Homo sapiens: one gene and its partners. The protein of the gene in region 1 purifies or fractionates together with the protein of each later gene. This does not show direct contact. Each region holds a gene or a part of one and is shown on either strand. Other genes may lie near its edges.

Evidence for each region. Proteins that work in one complex are often made in the same cells at the same time.
Region 2: the proteins of WDR3 (region 1) and PWP2 purify together in Homo sapiens (affinity purification with mass spectrometry; 2 studies listed by BioGRID and IntAct, with this or other methods). This does not show direct contact.
Region 3: the proteins of WDR3 (region 1) and TBL3 purify together in Homo sapiens (affinity purification with mass spectrometry; 2 studies listed by BioGRID and IntAct, with this or other methods). This does not show direct contact.

The regions. Positions count from the first base shown.
Region 1 is NC_000001.11:117,960,074-117,967,998, forward strand, and holds the end of WDR3 (WD repeat-containing protein 3), read left to right. Parts: 3' UTR 1-3,725; coding exon of another isoform or gene 3,726-3,865; 3' UTR 3,866-6,470; downstream 6,471-7,925. Other genes in the region: SPAG17 (sperm-associated antigen 17), read right to left, coding at 3,726-3,865, 6,536-6,680. UniProt on the Homo sapiens protein: Part of the small subunit (SSU) processome, first precursor of the small eukaryotic ribosomal subunit.
Region 2 is NC_000021.9:44,109,589-44,117,398, forward strand, and holds part of PWP2 (periodic tryptophan protein 2 homolog), read left to right. Parts: intron 1-4,164; coding exon 4,165-4,259; intron 4,260-4,590; coding exon 4,591-4,690; intron 4,691-5,036; coding exon 5,037-5,180; intron 5,181-5,675; coding exon 5,676-5,811; intron 5,812-6,102; coding exon 6,103-6,332; intron 6,333-7,810. UniProt on the Homo sapiens protein: Part of the small subunit (SSU) processome, first precursor of the small eukaryotic ribosomal subunit.
Region 3 is NC_000016.10:1,967,165-1,975,052, forward strand, and holds the start of TBL3 (transducin beta-like protein 3), read left to right. Parts: upstream 1-4,888; 5' UTR 4,889-5,000; coding exon 5,001-5,041; intron 5,042-6,891; coding exon 6,892-6,943; intron 6,944-7,032; coding exon 7,033-7,128; intron 7,129-7,211; coding exon 7,212-7,259; intron 7,260-7,373; coding exon 7,374-7,515; intron 7,516-7,598; coding exon 7,599-7,683; intron 7,684-7,763; coding exon 7,764-7,888. Other genes in the region: RNF151 (RING finger protein 151), read left to right, coding at 83-255, 561-657, 1,270-1,761. UniProt on the Homo sapiens protein: Part of the small subunit (SSU) processome, first precursor of the small eukaryotic ribosomal subunit.

The DNA of each region.
Region 1 (7,925 bases):
GATGCCTGGCTGGGCTTCTGAGGAATTAATACACTCGTGTGTGTGTGTGTGTGTGTGTGTGTGTGTGTGTGTGTATGTGTATGTGTATGTACACATACATATATATAGTTGACACTTGAAAAATGCAGGTGGTAGGGGCACTGACCCACCCCTACGCCCCGCACAGTCAAAAATCTGCATATAACTTTTGATTCCCCAAAGTCTTAAGTACTAGTAGCCTGTTATTGACTGGGAGCCTGACTGATGTATTATATATATTGTATACTGTATTCTTAAAGTAAGCTAGAGAAAAGAAAATGTTACTTAGAAAATCATAAGGAAGAGAAAATATATTTACTGTGTTTATCAATACTATAAGTGTATGTCATCTGTTTATAAAATGAATTGTCTGTCTGGATTGGCAGGCAACCACAGCCGCAGACCTCAATCTGTGGTACTTATCAAGCATCAGCTTTTTCTTGTAATGTCATGACTTTTCTCTGCTTTTTGGGAGCACTGTGATATGCAGTTTACTGGGGCGATGAGTTGTTCATGCACAGGTGATTAGTGTCACAGCATTTTAAGTGCATACGCACAACACTTGAGCTCACTGCATAGCAACAGGAGGTGGCTGTGAAATTATTTCAGTAACATACTGTGTATTACAGTTCATTTTATGCAGCTATGATTTAATACTGCATCTTTACATTATTTTACATTTCTCCCAAAACTGTGAATTGCACCATGTATGATCTGTATTTGTGTGTGTTAATGTTGATAATAGATTTGCGTGTATTTTATGGCAGTAAATGATAAAATAGTCTAGTATCTACATATATTTTGTGCATTCATGATATAACTACTTTTTTCCTAATTTTTTTCATCTGAAACTTTTCTCATTGTTTCAGATCTCCAAAAATTTTTCCAATATATTTATTGAAAATATCTGGGCTGCGTGCAGTGGCTCACGCCTGTAATCCCACCACTGTGGGAGGCCGAGGCAGGCGGATCACAAGGTCAGGAGTTCCAGACCAGCCTGGCCAACATGGTGAAACCTCATCTCTACTAAAAATACAAAAAACTAGCTGGGCGTGGTGGCAGGCGCTTGTAATCCCAGCTACTCAGGAGGCTGAGACAGGAGAATCACTTGAACCCGGCAGGCGGAGATTGCAGTTAGCCAAGACAGTGCCACCAGCATTCCAGCCTGGGCAACACAGTGAGACTCCATCTCCAAAATAATAATAGTAAAAAAAAATCTGTATAACAGTGGAGCCAAGTGGTTAAAACCCATGTTCAACGGATTGTCTACTGTATATCTTCATGGTAAGGATTTGGGGAATGTTCTAGGAAAAGATATTGACAGATACCTCTGGGTCTGGGCTTTTCTTTTGGGGAAGTTTATAAATGACTAAATCATACTTCTTGTTACAGGCCTGTTTAGATGTTCTGTATCTTCTTGAGACAGTTTTGCTTTTTATCTTTTTTGTTGTTGTTAATCCCAAAGATTTAAAACTATGGTTTCTGTCTGAATTTGGTCATTGCAACCAAGTTACTGTGTTGTGGGGCCACCATTTTCTTCTAGGCTCAGATATGCAGTCCTTGTGGCTTGCCGATTTGTGTCCCAAACCACAAGTCTTAATGTTCTTGAGCATAACACAATCACTGAAGTGAGTAAGGGATGCAGTGGTGTTATTTGTTGGGCAGAATAAATAAGTGAATTTTGGCATAGAGTTTCTGAAGGCATAACTATGAAGGCAAGAGAATAGGCAGGCAGGATAATGCATTCTAGGTGCTTTCCAAGGAGTCAGTGTTGTTTAGGCAGCTATTCCTGCCACCAGGGAGAGGAGTTAATTCTTGAAAAAAAATTTAATTTTTTATGAGAACAGAAGTTGATTCAATATCCTTCTTAGAGTTGCTCATCAGAACATAAATGTCACTTTCTAGTAACATTTTTGATGGTTTCCAAACCAAAACAAGTTCCAGGAGGGCATTCGAGATGTATACATCATCAATAATTACTCTTATGTTAAAAGTTGCTGTTTTCCCGTAGCTTTGCCACCATTTATAACTCAAAAGCCTGATAGTGCTAGGGAATGTAAAGATGTTTCTGTCTGCTAAGTGTTATACTAATCGAAGAGAAGGAGAACTTTTATGATAAAGTGACATGTACAGAACCTAGCCAAGTTACAATTTTTGGTCAAAATACTTGAAACTCTTTAACTCTAAAAGTTTAAGGTCAATAGGTGCATTATAAAGTAAATTTTAAGCCAGGCAAATTTCTAGTCATTAAGTCAGTATTCATTGCCTTAGTCAGCCATTGGCTGTATATAATCCTTAATATAAAAACCATCTAATGACTAATATCTCTTGCATATTGTGAAGTAAGTTACCTATAGAAATTCTGTAGTACCATAAAGAAAAGCCTTTTGAGATTGCAGTGAGCTGAGATTGTGCCACTGCACTCCAGTCTGGGCAACAGAGCCAGACTCCATTGAAAAAAAAAAAAAAGGCTCTTGAATGATGTATTGGGAGTAAAACATTTAGGCTTATTTTTAAAAATGTATATATCCATCCACTTAGAGAAAATATGCTTAAAAATTTTGAAATTCACTGGCTGGAAGCTAGGTGCTTTGTATATTTGGTATTAAATTGTTTCTCAATGGCAAATGTCATAAATTATATCTCATTCTAAAGATATCTAGCAAATCTCCAGCAGAGATCTAGGACAGTGCCCAGGAAAGCAATGGTATCTGTTGGTAGGTACAGGACTGTATATAGGACTCTATTCACTTAGCTGTAAATGATGAGCCTGCTCAATGCAGCCTTTTCAGGCCAGATTAGTCTTCAGAAAGAGAGGGAGGTTGTGAGCAGAAGCTTAATGAAGAAACCACATTGGCTTACAGTTACTGTCTGCAATCCACCCCCATTCCTCACAATTTAAGCTCCTAAGTTTGAGATGGGGCTAAGGTTCTTAAAGGTAGTATCACCATATATTCAAGTCCTTTCTCTTTATTTCTGAGGTTTTTGGGATCCAAGCAGCCCTGGTATGTTTTTAGAACACAGTACACATTGTGTAACAGTCACTGAGCCCAACTCTTACATAGGGCCTGGCAGTGTTGCCCTTGTGTATCCCTTCCCCTTGAGTATGGGGTCGGACCTAGTGACTGGCTTCTAGTGAACAGAATACAGTAAATATAATGGGATGTGTCTTCCAAGATTAGGGTATAAAGCACTGAATTCTACCTTGCATGAGCATTACATTTTATAATATATATAAAGAAGCAACTAGTATAGTTATTTAAACAAATATTTTCTTTTTTTTTTTTTTTGAGACAGAGTCTCGCTCTGTCTCCCAGGCTGGAGTGCAGTGGCACGATCTTGGCTCACTGCAAGCTCCGCTTCCTGGGTTCACGCCATTCTCCTGCCTCAGCCTCCAGAGTAGCTGGGACTACAGGCACCCGCCACCACACTTGGCTGATTTTTTCTATTGTTTAGTAGAGACGGGGTTTCACCAAGTTAGCCAGGATGGTCTCGATCTCCTGACCTTGTGATCCACCCACCTCGGCCTCCCAAAGTGCTGGGATTACAGGTGTGAGCCACCGGGCCCGGCCTAAACAAATATTTTCATTCATTCAGGCCAGGTGGCTTATAGGTTTCTGACTATAAGAAGAGGGGAAGAAACCTGGGGTCTAATACCTCAAATTTGAATGCTTGACAATCAAATTCCCATTTATTACTTACTGTACCTAATGTGGAGAAACTTTACGAGACATGAAGACTCCAAGTGTGGAGGAATAAATTGTAGAAGTTCTCTGGACCATTGGATTTTCTTTTCCCTGGGGAAAGTCTTTTGGTCGTTTATCATAATTGCTGCTTGTTAAAACAGGTAAAATACTTGTTAAGGGCTGTGCTTTTCATGACTAAATTATTTGCATATATAAACCTAAATAACATTTTAGAATCATAGAATTTCTTCTCTGGCAACATCAGTTCAATTTTAGGTAACTGTCTATCCAATGCAAATTCTGCATGCTCAGGCTTGGGGGTTAGAGGATGGATATGCCAATGTCTAGAATGTCTTCTGTTCTCCCTAGTGTACATTTCTCTCCTAACTGTGACTGGCTTTCTATAAGGAGCCATCAGTATGGTCAAGCCCCAAACCATATCTACATCAGATTTCATGCTTTTTTTTTTTTTTTTTGGTGGGGAGAGGGACAGATCATTGTTGACACTGTAAGTAAGTAGATAAAAGATCTGATAAGATTTTTTGCCCTTTATCTGTGTCTGACAGGTTCTCTCTAATCTATAAGCAGGGAAATAGAAAATTTATTATAAATACAAATGATTTCATTGCTATGATCAGCAGCAGTGACTCAGGTATTTGCATCTAATAACCTGTGTGGAGAGGGTAAGGGCACTTGATTTAGTTACCAGAGGAAAAAACTAGTTCTTTGGCTAGTTTCCTTCTGTCACAATGGAAAAACCCTGTCATTACTCAAAGGAAGAGAAAAAGGGAGGGGAGGAAGGTGAGAGGAAGGGAGAGAGACTTTCCCAGTGAGGACTTTCCTTTCCTATTTTATATTTTGCTCCATTGTACTTACTGCCATCATTGTTTATGGTTTACTTACTTTATGTATTGTCTGTCCTCCCACTGGAATGTAAGCTACATAAAGGCAGGCGTTTCGGCATCTTTGAAAGCATAAATGAACAAATGAACTAAACTTCATTTATTGACATCAGTGCTATCTGACACAAGTTCCTTTAACTTTCTCCTTCACCTCGGAATATCTGAATCATCAGCTATCTTCAGCTTCTCCCTTGCCAAGACTAACCCTTCAGCTCTGTTTTTTATTATTCTTTTGCCCTGTTTTGGATATTGCAGTTTCAATCACTTCTACTCATTCATATTTTTAATATATATCTTCTGCTCCACTCTCTTCAGCCTACAAACATGTAGGTCTACATTAAACTGAAAATCCTTCCTATATTCTGTTGCATCCTTGAGTAACATATTCTCTTGCTCTTTCCTTTAATAAATTTTCTTGAAAGAATATCCATAACTAATGTTTCTGCTTTCTTAATACAGTCATTCTTTACCTTTTGCAATTTAGTTTTTATCCCAACCAAATTTAACACTTTAAATCTGAATTTTCTTTGACATCTCAATAGCATCCGTCAATTGTGTCCGTCTTTTCCTTGAAATTCTTCCTAAGGCTTTTGAAGTATTTCACCATTTTCTAATTGCTGCTTTTGTCTCCACTGGCTCTTCTTCCTCCTGCTCCCTAAACCGACTCCAGATTTCTGTTCCTTGCCCATACATTCAGCCATCACCTCTGTGTAAACGATGCTTAAAATTATTATATCTCCAATTCTGACTTCTCAGTTGAGATCTAATATTACATATACATGATTCATTACCTCAGCCCAAAACTTTGAAGTTGAACTCGATGTCCTCTTTCTTCCATCCATCAATGGCTTCTACCTCAGATTTTGCAGTTTCCTTCCCCCACCATGTCTTTCATTCATGTCCCTCTTTTATGTTGACTGTTCCCCCACTCCCAGTTCTTGTCCTCACACATGGCCCATTCAGGTAGACTTCTAATGGTACTTTTACACATCCAGTTGTTCCCCTTTGACATGTCCTGCACAATAACCCTGGATTCATCTTAATAAAGATATGCTGATCATGTCACCCACAGGGTCAGGAATCTGCAGTGGTTCACTGCTGCTTAAATAATAAAATTCAAGCCAAGGATTTAAGATCTTTCATAACTTGACTCCAACCTACTTTCCCACTATATTCCTAATACTCAAGCTTTTGGCAAGTTGAACTCCCTGCCAATCATCCCAAACACCTGGAGCTTTCCTGTTGCCATGGTTTTGTTCATTATTTTTACTTAAAGTTCCCGTCAATCAAGTTTTCACATTCTATAAGATCCAGCTCAAAAATCAAATAAATAGAGAACTGTAACACAAGCAGCACACAATTCATGCCACTGGAGAAAGTACAAAATAGAAATAAAATGTGAAGACTTTATTTCTGCTACAAATTATATAATACCTTTTAAGACAGAGTCCAATTATCCATTTTTATATATGATAAACTATTTTATACAGTACCTTGGAGGTAATAGGTTCTTGATATCTATCTAATATCTGTTTGGCTGAAGACACTGATAAGGAGGAATGCATGCATAATTCAGTGAATACCCAACCTTTATAATAATAAGGTATTTCCTATCCTTCCATAAAATTATAATTTTTTTGTGATAGATACTTGCTGTTTTATTATTCTGTCTGATATTCCGTAGATAGCCAATAACATTTACATTTATTCAATCTGAAGTTACTGCACATATACTATGTGTCAGGTATTTTTTTAGATTTGGCTAGGTGCTTTCAAAGATGAATGAAGATGCTCTTTGTCTTAATAAATTTAACTCTGATTTTGAAGATAGAATTAATAAAGTAGAGATGCATTTTGACTTCCATGTTTTCCTCACTCGTGTAATTTCTGCACTATATATGATTACTCAAGTTGAACTTTAAAGGATATTTGCTTCCACAGGTAGGAACAGAACCTCATGCTCTGTCATAATCTCGATATTGTGAGAGATGTGTGCTGATCCCTTGGCCCCATCCTCTCCAACAGCTGTGGCAAATAACTCTATATTCAGTTCTGTCTGCATACCAGCTGCCACCTATAAGACACAAGGTAGCTTTAGGACCAGACAACTCTGAGTTCAAACCTTGCTTTTAATAATATGAATTTGAGCAAGTTACTTAAACTCTCTTACCTTTGGTTTCTTCATCTATAAATTTGGCACTAACAAATGGTAGTTATTATAAGCATTTAGCGGAATTACTTCATAATGAAGGTAGAATTCCATTAAGTAAAGGGGAGCCAGGGTAAATTGTTGAAGGGGCAAACCAGGTGCTATTTAGGAAAAAGCATAAGGAAGCTAAATGCCAGGTTATTGGAAGTGGAACTGAAGGCAAAATTTTGCAATACTCCTAATTGTGCTAGTTTTTGAATGTCGGTAGTGACTTTCAGTAGTGAAATCTGCAATAGCGGCTACTGCAGACAAAGATAAATTTAATCTAATATAAATATAAATCAGGAGGCTGAGGCAGGAGAATTGCTTGAACGCAGGAGAATTGCTTGAACCCAGGAGGCAGAGGTTTCAGTGAGCCGAGATCGCGCCACTGCACTCCAGTCTGGTGACAGGGCAAAACTCCATCTCAAAAAAAAAAAAAAAAAAAAAAATTCATCTAACAGACTTGGTGACTACCATAACTTTCCTACCCTGTTCCTTGCAGGGGTGTCCAATATTTTGGCTTCCCTGGGCCACATTAGAAGAAGAAGTATTGTCTTGGGCCACACACAAAATATACTAACAATAACGACAGGTGATGAGTTTAAAAAAAAATCGCAAAAAAATCTCATCATGTTTTAAGAAAGTTTAGGAATTTGTGTTGGGCTGCATTCAAAGCCGTCCTGGGCCATGGGTTGGACAAATGTGACTTTAGGGTATTCCTAATGCAGGATGCATAAAATAATGAAACCAGTAGAGGGAGATAAAATTAGTTTAAATGCCCAACTGCTTAGTTTGAAAACCCGTGGAAGAGGATTGCACCAACAAAGAAGAAACCTGATACAGAAGGAAGAAGGAACACAGCAAGGCATGGGCGTCTTGCCTTGTTCTTTGAAAAGAACACTAGCCAGCAAAGAGAGAGCTATTTATGTTTCTAAGTTGCCTCTCCAGGAGGTGGGTTAAAAAGCAGACTTGGGAACAGTTATCTAGAAAAAAATAAATCTGAAACTACCACATGAAAAGCAATTAGATACAAATGGAATGTTTTCTTCAATATAGTTTTATAAATAGTAGAATTGGAAAATGTTTCACAGTTTTTTCAACAATGTACTTGTGAGCATATGCATACTG
Region 2 (7,810 bases), on another chromosome or scaffold:
TGGGGTTTAGCGGTTTCTTCCTGTGTGCTGTTGCACTTTGCTTCACTTTGTTGCACTCTGGCTCTGTGCGGATGCTGTTTTACCACGAAGCGAAGGTGTGTGGAAACACTGCTTGGAGAAAGTTGGTCGGTGCCATTTTTCCAGCAGTGGGGGCTCACTTCATGTCTCTGTGTCACATTTTGGTAATTTTGTGATATTTCAAAGTTTATTATACCTGTGAGGGTGATTTGTGATCATCTTTGCTGTTGCTATCGTGATTGTTCTGGGGTGCCGTGATCCGTGCCCATGTAAGACAGCGAGCTTAATCGGTAAGCACTGTGTGTGCTGTGCCTGCTCCACCGACCGGCTGTTCCCCACCCCCCCACGTCTCTCTTCCTCTACTTGGGTCTCCCTATTCCCTGACACAAACAATGCTGAAATTAGGCCAGTTAATAATGGCCTACAGTGGCCACTACGTGTTCATGTGAAAGGAAGAGTCACACAACTCTCACCTGAAATCAGAAGCTAGAAGGGACTCAGCTTAGTGAGGAAGGCATGTCAAAAGCTGAAATAGGCCAAAAGCCAGGTCTCTGCCACCAAACAGGCAAGTTGTGAATGCAAAGAAAAAGCTTTTGAAGGAAATTAAAAGTGCTACTCCAGTGAACACACAAATTACAAGAAAGCCAAAATAGCCTTATTGCAGATACGGATAAAAGTTTGAGTGATCCAGATAGAAGATCAAACCAGCCACAACATTCCTTTAAGCAAGTCAAAGCCTAATGCACAGCAAGGCCCTACCTGTCCTCTGTTCTGTGAGGGCTGAGGTGAGGAAGCTGCAGGAAAGAAGTTGGAAGCTAGCAGAGGTTGGTTCATGAAGTTTAAGGAAAGAAGCCATCTCTACAACATAAAAGTGCAAAGCGAAGCAGCAAGTGCTATGGAGAAGCTGCAGGAAGTTATCCAGAAGATCTAGCTGAGATCATTGATGAAGCTGACTACACTAAACACAAAATTTCAATGGAGACAAAACAGCCTTCTATTGGAAAAAGATGGCCAGGCGCAGTGGCTCATGCCTGTAATCCCAACACTTTGGGAAGCCAAGGTAGGCAGATCATTTGAGGCCAGGAGCTTGAGACCAGCCTGGCCAATATGGTGAAACCCCGTCTCTACTAAAAGTACAAAAATTAGCCAGGCATGGTGGCACATTCCTGTAATGCCAGCTACTCAGGAGGCTGAGGTGGAAGAATTGCTGGAACCTGGGAAGCAGAGGTTGCAGTGAGCTGAGATCGTGCCAGTACACTCCAGCCTGGGCAACAGAGCAAGACTCTATCTAAAAATAAATAAATTAAAAAAAAAGAAAAAGATGCCATCGAGGACTTACATAGCTAGAGAAAAGTCAGTGTCTGGCTTCAAACAACAGGCTGACTCTCTTATTAGGGGCTAATGCAGCTGGGGCCATTAAGTTGAAGCCAGTGCTAATTCACTGTTCTGAAAATCCTAATGCCCTTCACAATGATGCCCAAGCTACTCTGCCTGTGCTCTATAAGTGGAACAGCAAAGTCTGGACGACAGCACATCTGTTTACAGCATGGTTTCCTGAATCTTTCCAGCCCATTGTTGAACCCACTAAGGTTCCTTTCAAAATATTTCTGCTGTTGGACAACGTACCTGGTCACCCATGAGCTCCAATGGAGACGCATAAGGAGATGCTGTCTTCATGCCTGCTAACACCACATCTCTTCTTCAGCCTACGGGAGTAACTTTAACTTTCAAGTCTTACCATTTAAGAAATATATTTTATAAGGCTCTAGCTGCCAAAGATAGTGATTCCTGTAATGGATCTGGGAAAAGCCAATAAAAAGCTTTCTGGGAAGGAGTCGCCATTCTAGTTGTCATTTCATGATTCATTCAATGAGGGCAAAGTGTCGACATTAACAGGAGTCTGACAGAAGTTTAGTATCAAGCCTCATGGATGACTTTGAAGGGTTCGAGACTTTGGTGGAAGAAGTTACTGCAGATGCAGTAAAGATAGCAAGAGGATTCGAAATGAAAGCAGAGCCTGAAATGGGACTGAATTGCCGCAATGTTGCCATCAATCTTGAATGAATGAGGAGCTGCTGCTTGTGGATGAGCAAAGCAAGTGGTTTCTTTTCTTTTTTTTGAGACAATGTCTCACTCTTGTCCCCCAGGCTGGAGTGCTATGGCATGATCTTGGCTCACTGCAACCTCCACCTCCTGGGTTCAAGCAATTCTCCTGCCTCGGGCCCCCCTACCAAGTAGCTGGGATTACAGGCGCCTACCACCACGCCCAGCTAATTTTTGTATTTTTAGTAGAGAAGGAGTTTCATCATTGTTGGCCAGGCTGGTCTAGAACTCCTGACCTCAGGTGATCCACCCGCCTCAGCCTCCCAAAGTGCTGGGATTACAGGTGTGAGCCACCATGCCCGGCCAGCAAGTGGTTTCTTGAGATGGAATCTACTTCTGGTGAGGATGCTGTAAAGACTGTTGAAATGACAACAAAGGATTTAGAATATGACATCAACTTAGTTGATAAAACGCTGGGAGCATTTGTGAGGATTGACTCCGGTTTTGAAAGAAGGTCTGTTGTGGGTAAAATGCTATCAAACAGTATCACATGCTACAGAGACATCTTGTGAAAGGAAGAGTCCATCGATACGGCAAGCTTCACTGTTGTGTTAGGAATTGGCAACGGCCACCCCGTTTTCAGCAGCTGCCACTGTGCCTGGTCAGCAGCCATCCACATCGAGGCAGACTGTCTGCCAGCAAAAAGATGAAGACTCACTGAAGGCTCAGATGATTGTTAGCATTTTTTAGCAGTAAAGTGTTTTTAAATTAAGGGATGCACGTTGTTGCTTTAGACAGAATGCTTGTGCACACTGATAGACTACAGCACACATGAGTAGACTGCAGCGCACACCAATAAAGTACACACTTCGACGACAGTACACACGAACAGACTACAACTCACACGAATAGAGCACAGTGCACGCTTACAGACTACAGCACACGCTAGTAGACTACGCCGTACTGTTTACAGTATGGTGTAAACACAGCTCGGCTGCTTATGGGGAAGCTGGAATGTGTGTGCCTCACTCAGTTGCAGTGTAAGCGTTATCTGCAGCATCTCCGCGGGATTCCTGTAGCCCCTTATTTTCCATTTTTCTAGCAACAGTGTTACATGGGTGCACTGTCATGGTGGTTAATTCCTGTTGGGCACTTAGCTTGCTTCTGGTATTTTGATGTCACACTGAGGCGGAATAATCCTCTCATCATATCATCCTGGAAGCAGAATTGATGTATCCAAAGCCCATTTTTAAGGCTTTTAATGCATTTCACTAGAGTTCCTCCAGGGACAACGTCATTTCTTTTTCTTTTTTTTTTTGAGACAGAGTCTTGCTCTGTCACCTAGGCTGGAGTGCAGTGGTGCGGTCCCAGCTCACTGCAACCTCTGCCTCCCAGGTTCAAGCGATTCTCCTGCGTCAGCCTCTTGAGTAGCTGGTATTACAGGCGCCCACCACCACGCCTGGCTAATTTTTTGGGTTTTTTTGTTTGTTTGTTTGTTTTGAGGCAGAGTCTTGCCCTGTCGCCCAGGCTGGAGTGCAGTGGTGCAACCTTGGCTCACTGCAAGCTACACCTCCCGGGTTTACGCCATTCTCCTGCCTCAGCCTCCTGAATAGCCGGGACTACAGGCGCCCGCCACCACACCCGGCTAATTTTTTGTATTTTTAGTAAAGACGGGGTTTCACCGTGTTAGTGAGGATGGTCTCAATCTCCTGACCTCGTGATCCGCCCGCCTTGGCCTCTCAAAGTGCCGGGATTACAGGTGTGAGCCACCGCGCCTGTCCAATTTTTTGTTTTTTGTTTTTATAGTAGAGACGGGGTTTCACCATGTTGACCAGGCAGGTCTCGTACTCCTGACCTTATGATATGCCCGCCTTGGCCTCCCAAAGCACTAGGATTATAGGCGTGAGCCACCGTGCCCGGCCAACAATGTCATTTCTTTTTCAGGAGTGGGGGGTATCCACAGATGAGCTCTGGCTTGTGGGGTCCAGTAAGATTGGAGGCGCTACTTGGGGAGGGTGAGCCGCTGGTCCCAGGCCAGGCCTGGCCTGTCTCCCTCATGTGACTTGAGGACCAACAGCACACTGTGGTTTTTGTCTTTATCAGCAACAAATCTGACACGCTGCCCCTGGCCACTCGGTACAACGTCAAGTGCGTGGGGCTGTCCCCGGATGGCCGCCTCGCTATCATCGTCGATGAAGGTACTTGCCCTTGATGTGGGCGGGTACTGAGGGGACCAGTGAGGAGGACTCAGGGCTGTGTGGGTCTGAAATGATCCGCTCCCCAGTCGCCTCCGTGTTGGGGCCCGGGTGGGGATTGGGGATGAGGGTGTCATGGGCGAGGCTGCGTCCCCGCCGCAGGCTGTGTCTGTGGCATCACCTGTGGCAGGGCAGGGCCTCATGGCCCTTGGGCATTCTCAGTCCTGACTCCTCACAGTGGACGCGAGAAAGACCTTTCTCCGTTTTTCCCGTGCTATGTATCTGGGGTGGCCCCTGGGGTAGCTGCGCGGTGGTGACCTCTGGCGTCCTGCAGGGGGCGATGCGCTGCTGGTCAGCCTGGTCTGCAGGTCTGTGCTGCACCACTTCCACTTCAAGGGCTCTGTGCACAGTGTGTCCTTCTCCCCTGATGGCAGGTAAGGGGGACAGCTTGGGGGCAGGAGGGTTCGGCCGTGCATGCCGACGGTGAGGCCCACTGCCCAGCTCGTTTCCCTGGGCCCCGGGTTGTGACGTTGGGTTGGGCACACGGCCCAAGCTCTGGCATTGGTGACCCCCTTTTCTGGAGGAGAAGGCTTGGTGCGGCCAGGCTGCCCTCCCTCCAGGGCTGTTTCTTCCCTGACTTTTGCTTCCTCTGCTCCTTGGCCTCCATCCTGCAGGAGGCGGGACTCCAGAAGGCCCAGGTGGGTGCAGGCTGAGACTCCACAGTGGCCTTAGGGCCATTGCTGGTCTTGAATATCAACTATGTCCGCGTTCCTTCCATAGGAAGTTTGTTGTCACAAAGGGTAACATTGCCCAGATGTATCATGCCCCTGGGAAGAAGCGGGAGTTCAACGCCTTCGTTCTGGACAAGACCTATTTTGGGCCCTACGATGAGACCACCTGCATCGACTGGACGGATGACTCCAGGTGCGGCCTCAGAGGCTTCGGGGGAGCGGGGCTTGAGAGAGGCCCCTTGGACAGGTCACCCCCTTGGGCCCTGCAGCTTCGTTCCGCAATGGCATCTCGGCCTCCTTTGGGGCTGGGCGCTGCCCACACCATCAGGACTGGCTGGGTGGCTGTGGTCGAGTCTTTGCGGCTCTGAAGTGTGTGCTGTGGCCGAGCCTCCTGCCCCTGCACTGCCCTTTCACCTGTTTGTCCCAGAAACTGGGAATGCTGTGGTTGGCTCGGGCAGCGTCTGGGAGGAGTTAGGAAGGCAGACAGGGCAGGGACAGCGTCTGGGAGGTGTGAGGAAGGCAGACAGGGCAGGGGCTGTGCCGGGGTGTCTTCCTGTGCCTGGAGGCGTCTCAGCTCACTCTGAGACCACGTGGGGCTGTAGCGGTCTCCGTGCAGCCCTCTGGAGCTTGCACCTGGCTGCTTTGTTATGGCCAAGCCCTGAGGAGGTGCCATCTCCCTCTTTTCCAGGTGCTTTGTGGTTGGGAGCAAAGACATGTCCACCTGGGTGTTCGGAGCCGAGCGCTGGGACAACCTCATCTACTATGCACTGGGGGGACATAAGGATGCCATCGTGGCCTGCTTCTTTGAATCCAACAGCCTGGACGTATGTCCCTTTGCCAAGTTCCCTAGCCTGATGGTGGCCAAAAGCGGCTAGTTCAGGGAGGCCCCAGGCTGCAGGCGGCCTCTTCCTGCGGTTCCCCCAGGCTGTTCCCGTGTGGCCTGGGGGCATCTAGGGACCGATGGCAGCTGTGGCGGCCCATCGAGAATTGTTCTCAGAGTTCAGAGGGGCCGTCGGTGCCACTGGTCCCTGGATCTGAGCTGGAGGGAGGTGCCGGGTTGTGGCAGCTGGGCCAGTGTGGCTGGGGCTGGGGTGACCCTGTGCTTCCCCTTGCAGCTGTACTCACTCAGCCAGGACGGAGTGCTGTGCATGTGGCAGTGTGACACGCCCCCCGAGGGCTTGCGGCTGAAGCCCCCTGCGGGCTGGAAAGCAGACCTGTTGCAGCGGGAGGAGGAAGAGGAGGAGGAGGAGGACCAGGAGGGCGACAGAGAGACCACCATCCGGGGAAAAGCCACTCCGGCCGAGGAGGAGAAGACAGGAAAAGTGAAGTACTCACGGCTGGCCAAGTAGGTCTCTGAGGTGTGGTGGGCTGTGGCGGGGCACTCCTGTGGGAATCTCTTGCCCCCAGAGGGATCTGGATGTGGGGTCCCCAGGGCCGAGGAGTGGGAGGTACAGAGAGCAGGCCTGCGTCTCAGGGCCCCGGTTTGAGCACCCTCGAGTGCTTGGGTGTTGACCCTGCCCCTTAAGCAGGGTCCCTGCCTCGGCTGTCTGAGCTGCCTGTGTGCCCAGGGCAGGGCAGAGGGCGGTGGGTAGGGGTGCATAGGGGGCAGGGAGGTGTGCGGGCACTCCGTGACGGGAATAGCAGCACCTTGGGCCCTAAGGGGGTTGGGAGTTGTCTGTGGCCCCACCAGCTTCTGTGGAGTTTGGTGTGGGCGATAGTCCCTTGGCCTCGTGCAGGGAGATGCCGGGAGAGCATTTGGCAAGGGTGGAGGGAGGGACCGGGCTGTGAGTGGGCGCAGCGAGTGGTCTGAGTCCTGCTTCGGGGCCCGCTGGTGGGTGGTACTTGGTGCTTTTTCAGGCACTGAGCTGGGCCGTGCAGCCCCGCATCCGGACTCAGTCCCCCAGACGAGACGAGATGAGATGAGACTGAGCCCGGCCCCACGGACTGCCTGTGGGATGGCCTTAGCTGTGCCTGGAGCCCTGGCAGAGATGCTGCCCTGATTCGGGGTGTCCCGCGTCTGGGCTGTGGGGGGAGGCTGGTCAGGATCACATGAAGGCAGAGTTGCCCGCAGCTATGGTGTCTCCGTCACCCGGGTGCCCCAGCCTGGGCCCCTCCTTGCTGCAGTTGCTTAGCGCCTGCTGTGTGCAGGGCTCTGAACTTGGCACTGAGACACACTGCCCACCCTTGTGAGGCCTCCTCTCCGCCGGGGAGGAGAGGTGCAGTGATGAGGTGGCTGCGTGCGGAGGTGGGCGGCAGTTGGGGTCCCTGGGTGGGGAAGGCGCCCACACAAGGCCCTGCCTGTGGAGGGAGCCAGGCGGCCAGAACGGGCTGCCTTTGGAGGGGTTGGGGTCTGCTGGGTAGGTGGGAGTTGTGGCCATGAGAGCCCTGGGTCTGAGGAGCAGGGAGGGCCGGCTGGACTCCAGTGGGAGGAGGGTGCTTTGCCAAGGGCAGCGGAGTTGGAGGGTGGCCAGAACAGGTCCAAGTGGGTCAGTGCCCACAAGTGAGTCAGTGCCCGCGGGTGGGTCAGTGCCCGTGAGTCCGTGCCCGTCAGTGCCCGCGGGGACTTGGGGGTGTTGTGCTGGAGTCAAGACTTGAATGGGGACTGGAGGAAGAGGAAGGGATGATGGGCCCCCCAACCCCGCCCTGGGGAAGGGAGGTTCCAGGCAGCTCCAGGAAGACAGTGTGCCTGCTAGGCGGGGACTGCGGGCTGTCAGCGCGAAACATGTGAAGGGAGGGCCTGCTGCATTGGCAGCCAGTGCTCCCTGTCACTTGTTCAGGAGGGACGGGGTCCAGAAAGGAGAGGGAAGGACCAGGGCTGAGCTA
Region 3 (7,888 bases), on another chromosome or scaffold:
GTTCTGTGGCCCACCTCCCTGCCAAAAGCTTGCTGGGCTCTCTTGCTCGGTATGTGGACCAGGGACTGGATCACTGTCCCAGCCAGGTGCTGACACCTGGCCTTTGCAGGGTGGCGGGTATGATCTCAACCTCTTCGCCAGCCCTCCTGACAGCAACTTCGTGTGCTCCGTCTGCCATGGGGTTCTCAAGAGGCCAGCAAGGTTGCCATGCAGCCACATCTTCTGCAAAAAGTGCATCCTCCGGTGGCTAGCCAGGTGCCAGCGGGTACCCAAGGGGCTGGGAGGGCAGGAGTGAGACTGGGGGCCATTGCTGTGGCCCAGAACAGAGGGGAAAGTCAGCCAAAAGACTCAGCCACCAAATCTCCCTAAACTAAAATGTGTGTACCCTCACTCAGTAGTGTCTGCAGACCCCGGCCCCACCCTCAGAGCTGAGAGCGCCCTGTAATATGCCCTAATGCCTCATCCAGCTAATGAAGGGACCACCTGGGTCACCGAGTGAGGGCTTGACCAGGGCTCCCTTCCCACTCCCAACACTCACCCCTACTCATGCCTCCTTCCAGACAAAAGACCTGTCCGTGCTGTAGGAAAGAGGTGAAAAGGAAAAAGGTTGTCCACATGAATAAACTCCGGAAAACCATTGGCCGCCTGGAAGTCAAGGTAGCTCAAAGTACCCACTCCCCTGACCCTCAACCCTTCTCACCCTTGTAGGGGTGGGGCAGGGCTAGGAGAGAAGGCAGGAGAATCCCATCTTCAGAGAGAAACAAGTGCAGCCTTGGGACGACCAGACATAGCTGAGTTTGGATCGTGGCTCTACTGCTTAGTTGCTGTGTGACTTTAGGCAAGTCACCTAACTTTTCCAAGCCCCTGGGTTAGAAAATGGAGATTTTAGAGGACTTTTAAAATGGAGATTACAGAGGATTTTTAGAGGATCAAGTGCCCAGTGTGCCTGCCACTACTCTCTAGTCCCCTAGTTTTACAGATGGGTAAACCGAGGTTAAAAAGGAAAGCCTGGCATCCATACCACTCACCAGACCAACCCAACTGTGTACCTTCCAGTTCCCCAAGACTCAGGCCTCACCCTCTCCCCTGGAACTTCTAGCTTCTTCCCACGTCTAGGCATTTGCCCCAGTGTTCTCTCCACCAACTCACCAGAGTCAGAAAAGCGTGGGAGGCTCCCGGTTCCCTGGTTCCTGGCGAATGGAAAGCCAGGGGTGGGGGATTCCGTGGGTGTCCTGCCCGGTTTCTTCACACGTTCTCCTTCACCCTCAGTGCAAGAACGCCGACGCTGGCTGCATAGTGACATGCCCCCTGGCCCATCGCAAGGGGCACCAGGACTCATGCCCCTTTGAGCTAACGGCCTGCCCCAACGAGGGCTGCACCTCGCAGGTGCCGCGTGGGACCCTGGCAGAGCACCGGCAGCATTGCCAGCAAGGGTCCCAGCAGCGCTGCCCCCTGGGCTGCGGGGCCACCCTGGACCCGGCCGAGCGTGCTCGCCACAACTGCTACCGGGAGCTGCACAACGCCTGGAGCGTGCGCCAGGAGCGCCGTCGGCCCCTGCTGCTGTCCCTCCTGCGGCGTGTGCGCTGGCTGGACCAAGCCACCAGTGTCGTTCGTAGAGAGCTGGCGGAGCTCAGCAACTTCCTGGAGGAAGACACCGCTCTGCTGGAGGGTGCCCCACAGGAGGAGGCCGAGGCTGCCCCAGAAGGCAACGTTGGGGCTGAGGTGGTGGGGGAGCCCAGGGCCAACATACCTTGTAAATAGGTAAATAAAAGCAGACCCCCGGCCTGCCTGCCTCTGTGCCTGCGGCCCTCACAACTGTCACCGGTGCATCCCTGCTGCCCTCTCCAGGCATTTGCCTGCTCTCTTTCATCTTTTCTTTTTCAAAGGAAGGAGGCCGGGCGTGGGTGGCTCACGCCTGTAATCCCAGCACTTTGGGAGGCTGAGGTGGGTGGATCACCTGAGGTCAGGAGTTCGAGACCAACCTGACCAACATGGCGACACCCCGTCTCTACTAAAAATACAAAAATTAGCTGGGCGTGGTGGCAGGCGCCTGTAGTCCCAGCTACTCGGGAGGCTGAGGCAGGAGAATGGTGTGAACCCGGGAGGTGGAGGTTGCAGTGAGCCAAGATCACACCACTTCACTCCAGCCTGGGCGACAAGAGTGAGACTCCGTCTCATAAAAATAAATCAATAAATAGGCCAGGCGCGGTGGCTCACGCCTATAATCCCAGCACTTTGGGAGGCCGAGGCAGGCGGATCACAAGGTCAGGAGATCAAGACCATCCTGGCTAACACAGTGAAATCCCGTCTTTACTAAAAAATACAAAAAATTAGTCAGGCATGGTGGCGGGCGCCTGTAGCCCCAGCTACTCGCGAGGCTGAGGTAGGAGAATGGCCTGAACCCGGGAGGCGGAGCTTCCAGTGAGCGGAAACCGTGCCACTGCACTCCAGCCTGGGCGACAGAGCAAGATTCCGTCTCAAAAAACGAGGCCGGGCGCGGGGGCTCACGCCTGTAATCCCAGCACTTTGGGAGGCCGAGGTGGGCCGATCACGAGGTCAGGAGATTGAGACCATCCTGGATAACACAGTGAAACCCCGTCTCTACTAAAAAATACAAAAAATTAGCCAGACGTGGTGGCAGGCGCCTGTAGTCCCAGCTACTCGGGAGGCTGAGGCAGGAGAATGGTGTGAACCCGGGAGGCGGAGCTTGCAGTGAGCCGAGATCACGCCACTGCATTCCAGCCTGGGCAACAGACCCAGACTGTCTCAAAAAATAAATAAATAAAAATAAATAAATAAGGGGAATACAAGAATGGCTACTCCATAGACAGAATACCTTTTTCTTCTTTTTTGAGACTGGGTCTTGCTCTGGCACCCAGGCTGGAGTGCAGTCACGTGATTACGGCTCACTGCAGCCTCAACCTCCCTGGGCTCAAGCAATCCTCCCACCTCAGCCTCCTGAGTAGCTGGGACTACAGGCACGCACCACGACTGCCGGCTAATTTTTGTGTTTATTTTAGAGATGGGGTTTCACTGTGTTATCCAGACTGGTCTCAAACTTCTGGGCTCAAGTGATCCTCCTGCCTCCAAAGTGTTGGGATCACAGGTGTGAGCCACCATGATGGCCTACTTTCTTTCCCTCAAATATCTCTCCTCTCAGAGATTTTCCCTGATCATACTTCTCAGTTCTCCTTCTCAGTTACTTTCGTTTTTTCATTTTTTTCTTTTCTATTTTTTGAGATAGGGTCTCTGTTGCCCAGGCTGGAGTGCAGAGGCCCAATCACAGCTCACTAGAAACTCAGCTTCCCAGGCTCAAGCAGCCCTCTCACCTCAGCCTCCAGAGTAGCTGGGACTACAGGCACACCACCACCCCTACTAAATTTTCTGTGTGTGTGTGTGTGTATGTGGAGACAGGGTCTCGCCATGATGCCCAGACTGGCCCAGTTACTTTTTTTTTTTTCTCTGAGACAGTCTTGCTCTATCGCCCAGGCTGGAGTGCAGTGACGTTGCGATCTTGGCTCACTGCAACCTCCGCCTCCGGGTTCAAGCGATTCTCCTACCTCAGCCTCCCGAGTAGCTGGGATTACAGGCACCCGCCACCACACCAGGCTAATTTTTGTATTTTTAGCAGAGACTGGGTTTCACCATGCTGGCCAGGCTGGTCTCGAACTCCTGACCTCGTGATCCACCGGCCTCGGCCACCCAAAGTGCTAGGATTACAGGCGTGAGCCATCGCGCCCGGCCTGGCTGTTACTTTCTACCAGCTTCAGAGCCAGTAGCACAAATGGCTCAAAACCTTGAACTCAGAGTAAAAGCTAACTCCTCGCCACGGCGCACAGGCAACTGCATGCCCTCTGCCCTCTGCACCCACTCCCTGCAGCCACCCGGCTTGTTGCTACTCAATGCTTGGCACCCCCAGTCCTAGGCCTGTGCCCTGGCTGTTCTCAACACCATTCGTTCCACAGGGCTCCCTGCTTCGCGAACTTGTGTCTGCTCAGGCGTCACCTTCTCAATACAGCCTCCTCCTTCCTCCCTTCCGCTCCCTCCCTTCTGTTTTTTTTTCTTTCTTTCTTTCTTTTTTTCTGAGACGGAGTCTCACGCTGTCACCCAGGCTGGAGTCCAGTGGCGCAATCTCAGCTCACTGCAGCCTCCGCCTCCGGGGTTCAAGCGATTCTCCTGCCTCAGCCTCCCAAGTAGCTGGGATTACAGGCATGTGCCACCACGCCCAGCTAATTTTTTTTTTCTGTTTTTAGTAGAGACGGGGTTTCTCCACGTTGGTCAGGCTGGTCTCGAACTTCCGACCTCAGGTGATCCACCCGCCTCGGCCTCCCAAAGTGCTGGGACTACTGGCGTGAGCCAACGCGCCCGGCCCTCCTCCTTTTTCCATCGCGCTCAGCAACTATCACTCGTCGCCCGTTCTGTTTCTTCTCTGGTGTCCGCCAAGTGCCGATTACAGTGCTTTGCACACAGAAGGTGCTCAATACATGAATGCCTTTGAGATTACCCGGTTTATTCATTTACCTACGTTATTTATCAAGAGCCACACTGCGAGCCCAGGGGCAGGGTCAGGTTGACGGCTCTACGCACGGACCGCACCCGACAGCTGGTACCCCCACATCCCAGAACGCCGAAAAGCAGGAGTAAACGCTGGCTACAAATGCCTTTTTATACTGGTATCAAAGAGCCAGGCCACCAGCGATGCCACATCCGCCGGTCTACCCCCACCGACCCGCGAAGCACCCTCACAGCTCACGGCCCTCCCTCCAGGCCGGAAACGTCTCCGCCCGCTTCCGCTTCCCGATGCAGCCGCCACTGCCCGAAGCAAAGATGGCGCCAAGTGCGCGGCGCCGGCGGGGACGTCACAGTGGTCGCGCGCGGTGACGCCATCGCAGCGCGCCGGGAGTGTGGCGTTCTGTGAAGAGTTCGGTGCTAACCTCCCTCACGCGGCGGTGGCTGCCGGGACCCTAGCAGGTTTCAGCTGGAGCGGCGGCGGCGGCAACATGGCAGAGACCGCGGCCGGAGTGGGCCGCTTCAAGACCAAGTGAGCCCGGAGCTCTGGGGCCGTGCGGGGAGGGAGCTGGGTTTGCAGCCGGCATAGCGGAGGCGCGCGTGGGGTGGGCACGCATTGGGGTCCGTGGAGGCGAGAGGCTGTGTGTGCGCCGGCCCGCGGGGTCGCGGAGGCTGCGGTGATACTAGGCGGGAGAGCCGGCCCCGGCTGCTCTCGGGGAGGACGGCGATCGGAGCCCGGCCGCCGGGAGCAGCAGCGTGGGCTCATCGAGAAGCCGGCTATGGGGTGGAGTGGGGACCAGAAGTCCCGATGAGGGGAGGAGAGGGCTGAGCCTAGGTCGGGGCTGGTCCCGGGAGGCGGCGGGGGCGAAGAACCACCTCTGAGCAGTCGGCCTGGGGACCTTTCATCCGCGATCCGTCTTCTCCAGGGAGCAGGGAGAATGCAGGAGAGGGGCGGGTCCGCAGAAGCCCAGGAGGCCCTGAGTGCTGTGCCCCGTCACTCCCCAAGCCTTTGCCGAACAGCAGTGCTGGTGCCCCCGCCCTGGCAGCGCAGCCTCATGGGATTATCGTTTCCACTGGCGGCTGTGGGGCTTTGGTTGTGCCAAGCACTGGTAAAGGAAAGTCCCAGGCTGGCAGCACCGTCGTGGGAGGGTCAACTGGGTGCGGGGGCTGAGGGGCCGCTTTCGTTTTGGCAGTCAGGCTTCCAGAAGCGCAGTGAGCCAGGCCTTGACATCTGGGAAGAGAAGCCCAGGCCGCGTACAGGGAATAGGGGGAAGATAGGAAACCCGTCCCAGAGGCTGGGACAGGAGCAGTGGGGTGCACTGTGGGCCATGAGAAGGAAAGAAAGCAGAGGCAAGGGTGGCAGAGGCTCTTCTGGGCAAGGTCTGGGAGGTGTGTGGGCAGAAGGGAGGGGCTAACGCAGGGCAGTGACATCTTCAGTTATGTTCTGAAAGGTACCTGGCAGCAGGGTTAAGAGGTAGGTAGGGGAGGCCGGGCGCGGTGGCTCACGCCTGTAATCCCAGCGCTTTTGGAGGCCGAAGCGGGCGGATCACGAGGTCAGGAGATTGAGACCACGGTGAAACCCCGTCTCTACTAAAAATACAAAAAATTAGCTGGGCGCAGTGGCGGGCACCTGTAGTCCCAGCTACTCGGAGAGGCTGAGGCAGGAGAATGGCGTGAACCCGGGAGGTGGAGCTTGCAGTGAGCTGAGATCGTGCCACTGCACTCCAGCCTGGGCTGGAGACCCCTTCTCAGATCGAGACCCCTTCTCAAAAAATAAATAAGTAAAAAGAGGTAGGTAGGGGGTCCAGTGAAGAGGCCAGAGTGGCTGGCCAGAGACTGTGATGGGCTGGACCAGGTGGAGGCAGTGGAGAAGGAAGGAGAAGGGGCACGAGTGAGGTCACAGAAATGACAGCTGCTCGTGGGACCCGGGCTCTGGGCAAGCCTGGGGATGGAGAGAGGAGTCAGGGAGGGGAAGAGGTATGCCAGACCTCAGGGATGAAGACACTGGGAGGATGTGCTCTGGGCTGGCTACCCAGGCCTGGCCACCCACCGCCGGCAGGGGTGTTCCCAAGGAGCCCCCTGGCTCTCACTGGGGAATCCCTGGAAGCCCTGGGCTGTTGGGCTGACTCCACCTGACACAGGCCCACCCCCTACTGCCTCAGGGATCACCAGCCAGCTGCGGGTCTCTACTTCTCAGTGACGACGGTAGCTACAGCCCCCTGCAGTACTGCTGGTTCCACCCCATGCCCTGTCCCTGCTGTTGCCCAGAAACTCAAGGGCAGGGGCCATTGGGGTCACTTGGAGAGGAGCACCTAGCACAGGGCGGGGCCCTGGGGACTGAGGGGGTGGGTGGTGCTCATTCGCCTCCCGCTCTCCTTCCAGCTATGCTGTGGAGCGCAAAATTGAGCCTTTCTACAAGGGCGGAAAAGCACAGGTACCAGCCTGGGGAAGGGCAGTGGGGCGGGCAGCCAGAGGCCGCGGGGGGTGCTGAATGTTGCCTGGCTGAGACCTCTCTGTCCCCAGCTGGACCAGACTGGCCAGCACCTCTTCTGCGTCTGTGGCACCAGAGTCAACATTCTGGAAGTGGCCTCGGGGGCCGTGCTGCGGAGTCTGGAGCAGGTGAGGGCAGCCTGGGTGGGTGAGGGGCAAGTGGAGAGGGCAGCCCACTCACACCGTGCTCGGCACACCACTCTTTCTCCTAGGAGGACCAGGAGGACATCACTGCCTTTGACCTCAGCCCTGACAACGAGGTATGTGGGGCGGGGCCTGGAGGGGACCCGCTCCAGCGCCTCCCTCCCAGACTGAGTCCAGGAAGATGTGAGCAGGGTATTGCTGCCCCTCTGCTGACCTGTACCCTCCCCCAGGTGCTGGTGACAGCCAGTCGGGCATTGCTGCTGGCTCAGTGGGCCTGGCAAGAGGGCAGCGTTACCCGCCTGTGGAAGGCGATACACACGGCCCCCGTGGCCACCATGGCCTTCGACCCCACCTCCACTCTGCTAGCCACAGGTAGGGCCCTGCCGTGCAGGTGGGTCGTGGGCACAGATGCAGGGGCTTTGGGCATTCCACCCCCTCACCTTGCTTCCCCGCAGGTGGCTGTGATGGGGCCGTGCGCGTCTGGGACATCGTGCGGCACTACGGGACACACCACTTCCGAGGCTCGCCCGGTGTCGTGCAGTGAGTTGGAAGGTGGAGGGGGAGGGCAGAGGCACCACCCAGGCTGCACAGCTCACCCATCCTGTCCCGTCCGCCCACAGCCTAGTGGCCTTCCACCCGGACCCTACACGCCTGCTGCTCTTCTCCTCGGCCACGGATGCCGCCATCCGCGTGTGGTCACTGCAGGACCGGTCATGCCTGGCTGTGCTGACTGCCCACTACAGCG